Linked DNA regions of Homo sapiens: region 1 is linked to region 2. Evidence: fine-mapped expression QTL. A gene starts in region 2. The other region holds a variant in brackets. All regions are shown on one strand. Distances are between the middles of the regions.

Region 1 (4,396 bases), 21 kb after region 2:
TATGACAGAGCATATGAGTCAGTGCCAAGTGCCCATAAGTGACGTGTCCTTATGTATCAGTAGTGGTGTGTCCTGTTCTCCTGCCATAGAACTGAAGCACTTAAGCACATGCATTTGTGGAAATAATCCCTCAGGGACAACGGGGCGGCCAGGGCAGGGTTTTGGCCTTGCCAAGCCCTGTTCCTCCTTTGGCCTCACTCTTCCACCTGGCTTTGGCTAGCCTTGGAGGCCCAAGTCCACTGATGTCAGGGGCGAGGTGGGTGCACATATTCCACGGGGGCAGAAATCAGTCCATTGGGAGCAGGACACATATCTTACAACTTCCTTTTATATTCATGTAAGACGAAAAAGATTAAGCTTCTCTGCAGTTAATGTACGGAGTCACTGATGTGTTCTAAAGGGCTGAACATTGTTGGTACTTGCCACCATCCCAGCCCTTCTCGGTTCCTCCCTGTCCTTAGAGGCATAAAGCCTGGACGCGACACTTGCCACACTCCTTTGCCAGTAGACCTGGATTCTTAGATTCTGCCCCAAGAGACCCTGTGCCCTGATTTGGGGAGGAGGGAGGTGAGGAGAAGCCGCTTCCTTCTGGTGGCTGCACAGGACAGGCTTTTGAGCATCAGCAGGAGGCAGATGTGGGGTTTGCCAGCAGCCTCTGGATATCACCTTGAGACTCACCCACTTCAGTCGTGCAGGCAGCTGAGACCACTGGGGGCAGGGGAGCTTCTCTGTGACTCTTGCAGTCCTGGATTTCTAGAAACTTCCTCAGTCCCTGCCTTAGTCCCTGCCTTCCAGGAGCCATATAAGCTTCTGATTCTGTATTAAACCATTTCCATTCTGAAGATTCAGAATGGCTCCTATGTTCCTGACCAGACCTGGACTTGTTTACCTTCTTCGGCATATCTGTCTTGTACAGGCCCACTGTTCAGAAAGAAGAGTAAAACTTCCATAGAAAGGGCCCTTTATATTATCTAGTTTAAGTAAACTAGTATATTTCATCAAATCTAAGACCTCTTTGATTGTAAGATGCACCACTGTTTAATAGTAAAGAAAATGCTACACATTAAACTATCACTCACCATTGATTATAAAATGCAAACTGATTTCATAGATGTTAACACGTGAAAAGATGGGTGGCTTAAGACATATAAAATGTTAGCTCTCAGAAGCTGAACAGGCGGTTTTAAAAGCTTAATGCAAACAAATTGCACTAATTGAATTGAAGACTAATACAAATTAAAACAAAAGCAATCTAATCAGATCTGCCCCAAATTCACAATTACCAAGGAGACTTTGAAATGTGAAATTATATCCATTGTCTTAAGTAAAAAGCCTTACCACAAATGTGTATTTTTTCTTTAGGTATTAACTAGTACTAGGATGAAGCCATCATATTTAGCAAGGCATTTAACGATTTCCTTGCATCCAGCCAAGGAAAAAAGGGGGAACTTGGAATGATTATAGATTAAGAGAGTCTTAAGAGGCATGTCACCCAAATGCAATGCACAGACCTCGTTTAGATGCTGATTAAAAGAAAACAACAGGAAAAACGAATACATGAGACAATCCAGGGAAAGGTGAATACCCAGTAGATATTAGATGATACTGAAGAGTTGCTATTAATTTCTAACAATGGTGCTAATTGGTATTATAATTATATTTTGAAAAGATGGTGCCCCTATCTCTTGGAAGTATCCTATTAAAACTTTGCAGATTAAATGAGATGATATCTGGGATTACTTTGAAATAATCCAACAGGGAAGGAGATGCAGATGAAACAGGGTTGGCCTTATGTTGGTATTTGTTGTGGCCAGTGATACATACATGGGAATCCATTATATAAATCTCTCTACTATCATGTATGTTTGAAATTTTCCATAATAAAAAGT[TTAAG/T]TATGCAGAACATGAAGACAAATTTCTCTATACTTTTCAGAGGTGTCTGAAGTCGAGCAACATTCACAACACAGAGGATTTCAGTAAATTAATGATTAATATTTAGACTTCTTGCTTGAGGTTTCTTAGTATTAGCCAAAGACAGCTAAGCCACCTACAACTGAGAAGCACCTGTTCTTCCTGTTGTGGTTGAAAAGGAAACAAGTTTGAAGTAATAGATGAAAAACAATACAGGACAAAGGATCAACTCATTCCTTTGTCAGTAAATAATTGGGAGGCGTGTAGAAAACAGGAAGACTTGAAGACACAAATCCAGATAAATGGCAGGGTGGCAGGTCTGCCATTCTGTTGAATGAAATGGCAGGTATTTCTGAAACTCATCAGTGTCTGGTGGAATCTGATGCTGCTTTCCTGGAGGAATTGATGGTCAGAAAGGGAAGACCCTCATCCCTTCACCCATACTCCTCTACACTCTGCCCTCTCCAAAGGGGCCTCTACCTCTAGGGTATTCTGGGGAATTCCTCCAAGTACAAGGCCTGGTGGTTTCAAAGTTGTTAGCACTCTCTCAGTTGGTTATTCCAGTTATTACCTCTCTAATTGTGTTTGCTTTTCAGACAAAGGGATTCAGTTCCTTTTTCATTCTTTTTCCCCATATACCGTCCTCTTCCATACACCTGAAGAAGCCCCTCATGACTCATATTTGCCAATATACACCGTTCTCCATGTTGGGAAGTCTCTCTCTCCCAGGAGAGTCCACCTAGGTCAACATCACCATGAACATCACTATGAAGTCACTACCTGTGGGTTTCCGAAGTCCATAAAATCCCTGTTTTTGGCCAGGCGCGGTGGCTCATTCCTGTGATCCCAGCACTTTGGGAGGCCGAGATGGACAGATCACTTGAGGTCAGGAGTTCGAGACCAGCCTGGACAACATAGTGAAACTTCGTCTACTAAAAATACAAAAATTAGCCAGGAGTGGTGGAGCACGCCTCTAGTCCCAACTACTTGGGAGGCTGAGGCAGGAGAATCACTTGAACCCGGGAGGCGGAGGTTGTAGTGAGCCGAGATCACGCCATTGCACTCCAGCTTACTCGCTCATGATCCGAAGTAGATGTCCTTCTGCCGGATGGTAATTTGGGGACCCAGGCTCCTTCTGTCTGTGGCTCCACCATCCCTAGGGCCTTGGGGTCCTTGGACTCCTGGTGGCAGGGCACACATCACTTCTGTTCCCATTCCATGGGCTGGACCTCAGTCACATGGCCACACCTCACTGTAACAGTGGCCAGGAAAAGTCTGTGTACCCAGGAAGACGAGGAAATGGGTCTTTGGTAACTAGCCAGCAGTCTCCACTATACATCACGTTCCTAACATCAGAACATCACCTGTTCATCCCTCTTGTAAGTTTGTCAGTTTCTCTGTGGCACCCCTCTAACCCCAGGACACTCACACACCTGGCTCCCCTTAGCCTCCTTCCCTGATATATTCTCTTTATGTCACTTAAACTTATGGCTGCTTAGATTATTGTTCCCAGCAATCAACTCTTCCCTGCAAAGAATATTTCTTCCCATCCATTGCCATGGAATTTGCAGTTTCTCCCTGAAGGCAAACTCTGTTGCCCAGCCCATTGTTGCACTTGGCCCTGAACCCTGCTTTGGCATTCAGGAGGTACACAAGTGAACTGAAGAGCACCACATCAAGCAGAAGCCTTCCCATGGGAGAGATCATCTGTCACATGCTTCTCCCTTGGCTGTGAGCACAGCATTGGCCAGACAGGGCTGCCCCTTCAGACTGGGTTCTGGAGCAAGCAAGAAGGCCTGCTGGGGCTGGGCCAAGGTCATCCTGTGGCCTCCTTCATATTATGTGAGCAAGAAGTAGTGTCTACAGTTGTAACTTACCGGGATTTGGGGATTCATTACCACAGCTCAAAAATGTGGTGAGATGTAACTGATACATTTCCTGCCACGGTTCATTCATTCATTCACTTGTTTATTTATTTGCATATTGGATGTCTTTCCCCACTAGAATGAACTCTTCATGAGGGCAGTGAGTTTCACCAGCTTTGATTCTGGCCATCAGGAATCAATTACTTGTTGATAGAATCGTAATCCTGGGAATCAGATTGAGGCTATTTTTAAGTAGCAAACACATACAGAGCCATTCCACAAGTGTCAGTGAATGACTGACATAAGGTGCCATTTGGCCTTTGGATTATTTTCTGGTTGGTTTCACTTCTGTGTTTTACATACAGCCAGTCAAGCACTGAAACTATAGGAAGAAAGAGGGAATTATTGGAAGACAGTGTGGCTCTGAAGAGAATTAAAAACTGGTTTAACATGACATCTTACTAGCAGCCATTGAGTCACTGACTCTCGACTTCTCACTAAATACCTTTCAGAAAATGAAAATGACCAGAACACAGGGTACCCCTGAAAATTAGAAGGGCAGCCAAGCTTTTGCCCATCTGGGAAATATTTCTACAACTCTCAGACCCTTGAAGCTGGAT
Region 2 (4,396 bases):
CAAATAAAGATGGATTTAAAATTCACTGTGGAAAAGAGTATTGAGTTACAAACTGAGAAGAAAAAGCAGGAAGTTCCCTAATAATCTGGAATATTCTACATGGCTTGATTACATAGCAAACAAGACCAAGATTTAGGGCTGTCTTTAACATCACTGCCGTCTTGAAGCAGGGTACACACGTTAGGTATTGTGAAGAACATCAATCCGAACTTTTCTTCTGTTGTTTGCACTGATGCGATTTTTTGTTCTTTTATGTTTATACAACGTATCTATGTTGTGTAGGGGAAATTTTTTCATTTTTTAAAAATTCTACTTTGGTTTTGTTGTTGTTTTGATTTGTTTTTGGCTAAGTAGAGGACATGGACTAGTTGTAGCAAACAGAACATGCTGTTTGCTCTTGCCAAAGGTCAGTGAGTGAGTGCATTTGCTGCAGTGGTGGCACGTAGAGAACTAGATGGTAATAAAGATTTAAAACTATGAAGAAGGTTACAGTGTAACTATTTTGGTACTAGAACCAGTTCATGCTGGCCGAAACGACAATGGTTTATGGACTTGCATCCATTTTGTATTTTTGTAATATTTGTAAATATGAACTTTTTAAATTGCTGCAAAGATGGTTTCTTTTGTAAGATGTTTTCAACGTTTACATTCAATCCAAGCCTTTGTATATTTTAGAGCTGTGCAACACTTTAAGTCTTGTATTTATTTTTAGTAAAAATGGTGACAGTTTCATTGTGAACCCCTCTCAAAAAAAATGTATCAGAAAAGTTTGATTACCTAGAAAGTGTGTATAGAAACTGCAAATAAACGTGACTGCAATTAAACAACCGGTTTCTCTCTTCACTGTTACGTAATTGATTTCTTGGGGCTTCGCAACAGTGTTTTACAGGCAACAGGACATAAGGGCAGGGTCTGTTATGGCAAAAGTAGGAGCAAAAAGAACATAGACCAGCCTGTCCAACATGGTGAAACCCGTCTCTACTAAAAATACAAAAATTAGCTGGGCATGGTGGCAGACGCCTGTAATCCCAGCTACTCTGGAGGCTGAGGCAGGAGAATCGCTTGAACCCAGGAGGCAGAGGTTGCAGTGAGCCGAGATCACACCGCTACACTCCAGCCTGGGCAACAAGAGCAAAACTCCGTCTCAAACAAAAACAAAAACAAAAAAAAAACATATACTATATCTATAATGGGCTTTAATCTAGCTTCGTATTTGAGAGGAAAAATGATACATTTCCAACGTCCAGTATACTTTCTTTGTAGCTCCTCTCTGGGCCAAGAAAAGATGTATAGCTTTACTTTGAAATATCTGCCTGCTTTGCTTCTGATAATTACTCAGACTGTGTCTCCTTCCCAAGATGAGCAGCCTCGATATAAGTATGTAAGACTATATGCCACTAGATGATGTCACATAGCCTTTATTACAATAGCAAAATTCTATGCCAGGTACTGTTCTAAGTGCTTTGCATACATTAACTCATGTAGTCCCCATATTATACCCATTTTACAGATGGGGAAACCGAAGCACAAAGCGGTTACTTGGCTTGCCTAAGGCCATAGGAGGACTGTGTTGGAGCTGGGGGTCCAATCCAGTAAATCTGCCTTCAAGGTCTGCGTTAGTTCCCCAGTCCAACTTGTGGGTGCTGGAGACTGGAAATATCTTGCCCGCCCCCCACCCTGGCCCCCCTCGCCCTTCCTACCAGACCTGGCTCAGGGCAACTGCTAAGGCCCCGCCCCTCTCCTCATTCCAAGTCAATCACTGGCGTGCGTCCAGGAAACCCAGTTTACGACGACGTCTCTGGTGCGTCACAGAGCGCGGGGGAGGGGCGGGATCACATTAAAAAAAAAAAAAAGCTTCGGACACCCCAACAACGAAGGGGGGACACCACGTCCCTAACTACAACGCCACTAGAAGGGTTGCGCATGCGCGCCAGCCTCCTGCGCAGCCGCAGAAACCACTCAGCGCGCGAGTCTCTGAAAGGCCTAACGTCCATTTTCAATCCTGCGGGTCTTGCGAAGGAAAACCTGAGGTAAGAGGCCCCGCCCCACAGCCATCTCCTCAGCAAATTCCCGCCCTCGGCCCCGCCCCACAGCTATCTCCTCAGCAAATTCCCGCCCTCGGCCCCGCCCCACAGCCATCTCCTTAGCAAATTCCCGCCCTCACCCAAGGACTGGGAGAGCACCCGCGGATTGGCCGATCAACGGTGACGCCTGTCAGTGGCCAGACTCCGATTGGTCAGCGGGTAGTCCCGCCCCCCCCCCCCCCCCCCCCCCCCCCAACCGCGAGTGTGGGAATTCGGCGTCGCGGGAGCTCTCTGATCCACTCAGGGGTCAGGGCATCACTGGTCTCGCGTGCGCGTGACCAGGCCCGGTTTCCGGTGCCAGGACCTTTCCGAAGCGTCGAGTGGCCTAACGGTCACAGCTGTCGCCCATCGGAGAGGCAGGACTACTGCGAGCAGTTTTACCGCGACCTCCGGAGGCCGGCGTGACAGGCTCTGTCACTAAAATAGGTCTGTCCAGTCGTACTTTTTCCTCACCTTGAACTTTCCGTCACGGGAATACACGATTTGGCTTAGGGGCCGGGGCTCTCCTGAGGAGAGAGGGTTTGCTTTGCGGGGAAGAGCGAGTCTTGACTTCGCAGCCTCCAATTTCAGCCGCGGTGTGGAGGGGGGTGCTTTGGGTGGTCCCCACAGCCTTTCCGGAGTGCCCGCGCGTGTAAGCTTTTGAGATTTGACAATTTGTGAAGTGCTTGGTGCTGACTTTCGGGGACGACAGGATCCTTTTACAGTCATTCTCCTGTCAGGGGAGGCAGGTGGGGAGCGAGGAAGGATCCAGATTTCGTTAACAGAGCTTTGAGTTTAAAGAATTGACAAACTCCCGAGTTGATTTCCTGTCAGACCTTTTGCGGTTGAGACATAGAGTCTGAGGCTTTGATGGTAACCGCGTTTGATTTAGAGACAGACTGTGCAGCTTCGCTGTTTTATTGTAAATACGTAAATGAGGAGGAAGAGAAAAACGTAGGGTGTTGGGAGCAGAGGCGGGAGGCGGGAGATCCTGCGAAATCGGAGTCCCTTTGGAGTGGGGGAGGCCGTCGAGGCGTGCGAGGGCCCGGCCCCCTTGCCGCGTGGTCGTTAACAGGAAAGGCCCTGATTTGGTTGGTGGCGGATCGCGTCCCTCCCTCCTCTCCCCGGCTCTCCCCGAGTGCGGCAAACTGGCTTCAGGTTGACTAAAAGATAGCGATTTTCCAAGCAGCTTTGCCGCGCGGTGTTTTCTAAAGCGGGGCGTGGGCTGGGTGCCCTTTTGGGCCTCACTTGTCCGGCCTGCGGCAAGTGCTGGGCGATGGGATGCGGTTCTGGCGGCAAAGGAAGGGCTGCCTTTGAGAGTCCCGCAGGAAGGTTTAGAAAGTGATTGTTCTTAAAACAAACAGAGCGTTTTGCTGTGTGTTCCTCAAAGTGGTCCCGGTGGGAGTGGCGCCTCATTGTGAGCTGTGCCTTATCTGATGAATTAATGGCAGGTGAAAGCCTTGCGCCTCCGGAGCGAATATTTACGACTTTTGAAAATGTCTTTAATGTCTAAAAAAAGTCTTTTAGAAAATCAGACGGCCTCTTGTTCTTATGTTATCAAGAGTTTAGATTTCTGTGGTAAATATAAGTGAGTTTCATTTTAAGTAAACTCATTTTACGAGATTTGAGATTTGAAAGTGAAATTAATTAATTTTGCACAATCTAGCCTTGGGCTCTGAGAAAATGTTGTAAAGCTGTAATTAATCTTGTGGGACGAAGTGAAAAGGAACTAAAGTGTATGGTGTAATGAATAGTTTAAATTTCTGTGGTAAATACAAGTGAGTTTCATTTTAAGTAAACTCATTTTTATGGGATTTGAGATTTAAAAGTGAAATTAATTAATTTCGCACAATCTAGTCATGGTTGGGCTCAGAAAATGTTGTAAAGTTGTGATTTATCTTATGGAAAGAAGTGAAAAGGAATTAAGGTATATGGTGTAATTAAGAGTTTAAATTTCTGTGGTAAATGCAAGTGAGTTTCATTTTAAGTAAACTCATTTTTACGGGATTTGAGATTTAAAAGTGAAATTAATTCATTTTGCACAGTGTAGTCATGGTTGGGCTCTGAGAAAATGTTGTAAAGCTGAAATTATTTATCTTGTGGGAAGAAGTGAGAAGAAACTAAAATGTGTGGTATTATCAAGAGTTTAGATTTCCGGGGTAAATATAAATGAGTTTCCTTTAAACTCATTTTTGTGGAATTTGAGGTTTAAAAGTGAAATTAATTTTGTAGAATCTAGTCATGGTTGGGCTCTGAGAAAATGTTGTAAAGCTGTAATTTATCTTGTGGGAAAAAGTGAAAAGGAACTTAAATTTATGGTGTTATCAAGAATT

Evidence for each region. PIP is the estimated chance that this variant, and not a neighbour inherited with it, causes the effect. A credible set is the group of variants that fine-mapping cannot tell apart.
Region 1: its variant is the best candidate, but not a certain one, in a credible set for the expression of SCML1 in whole blood (TOPMed, PIP 0.89).

What each region holds. Positions count from the first base shown.
Region 1 is chrX:17,756,546-17,760,941 of GRCh38, forward strand. No RefSeq gene overlaps it. Among named protein-coding and RNA genes, the nearest start is that of SCML1, 21 kb to the left of the region's middle. The variant TTAAG/T (reference allele first, on the strand shown) is at 1,890.
Region 2 is chrX:17,735,171-17,739,566 of GRCh38, forward strand. It overlaps SCML1 (Scm polycomb group protein like 1), which reads left to right and starts at 2,323. Exons shown (of 8, transcript NM_001037540.3): 1 at 2,323-2,510. NHS (NHS actin remodeling regulator) reads left to right here. Exons shown (of 9, transcript NM_001291867.2): 9 at 1-824.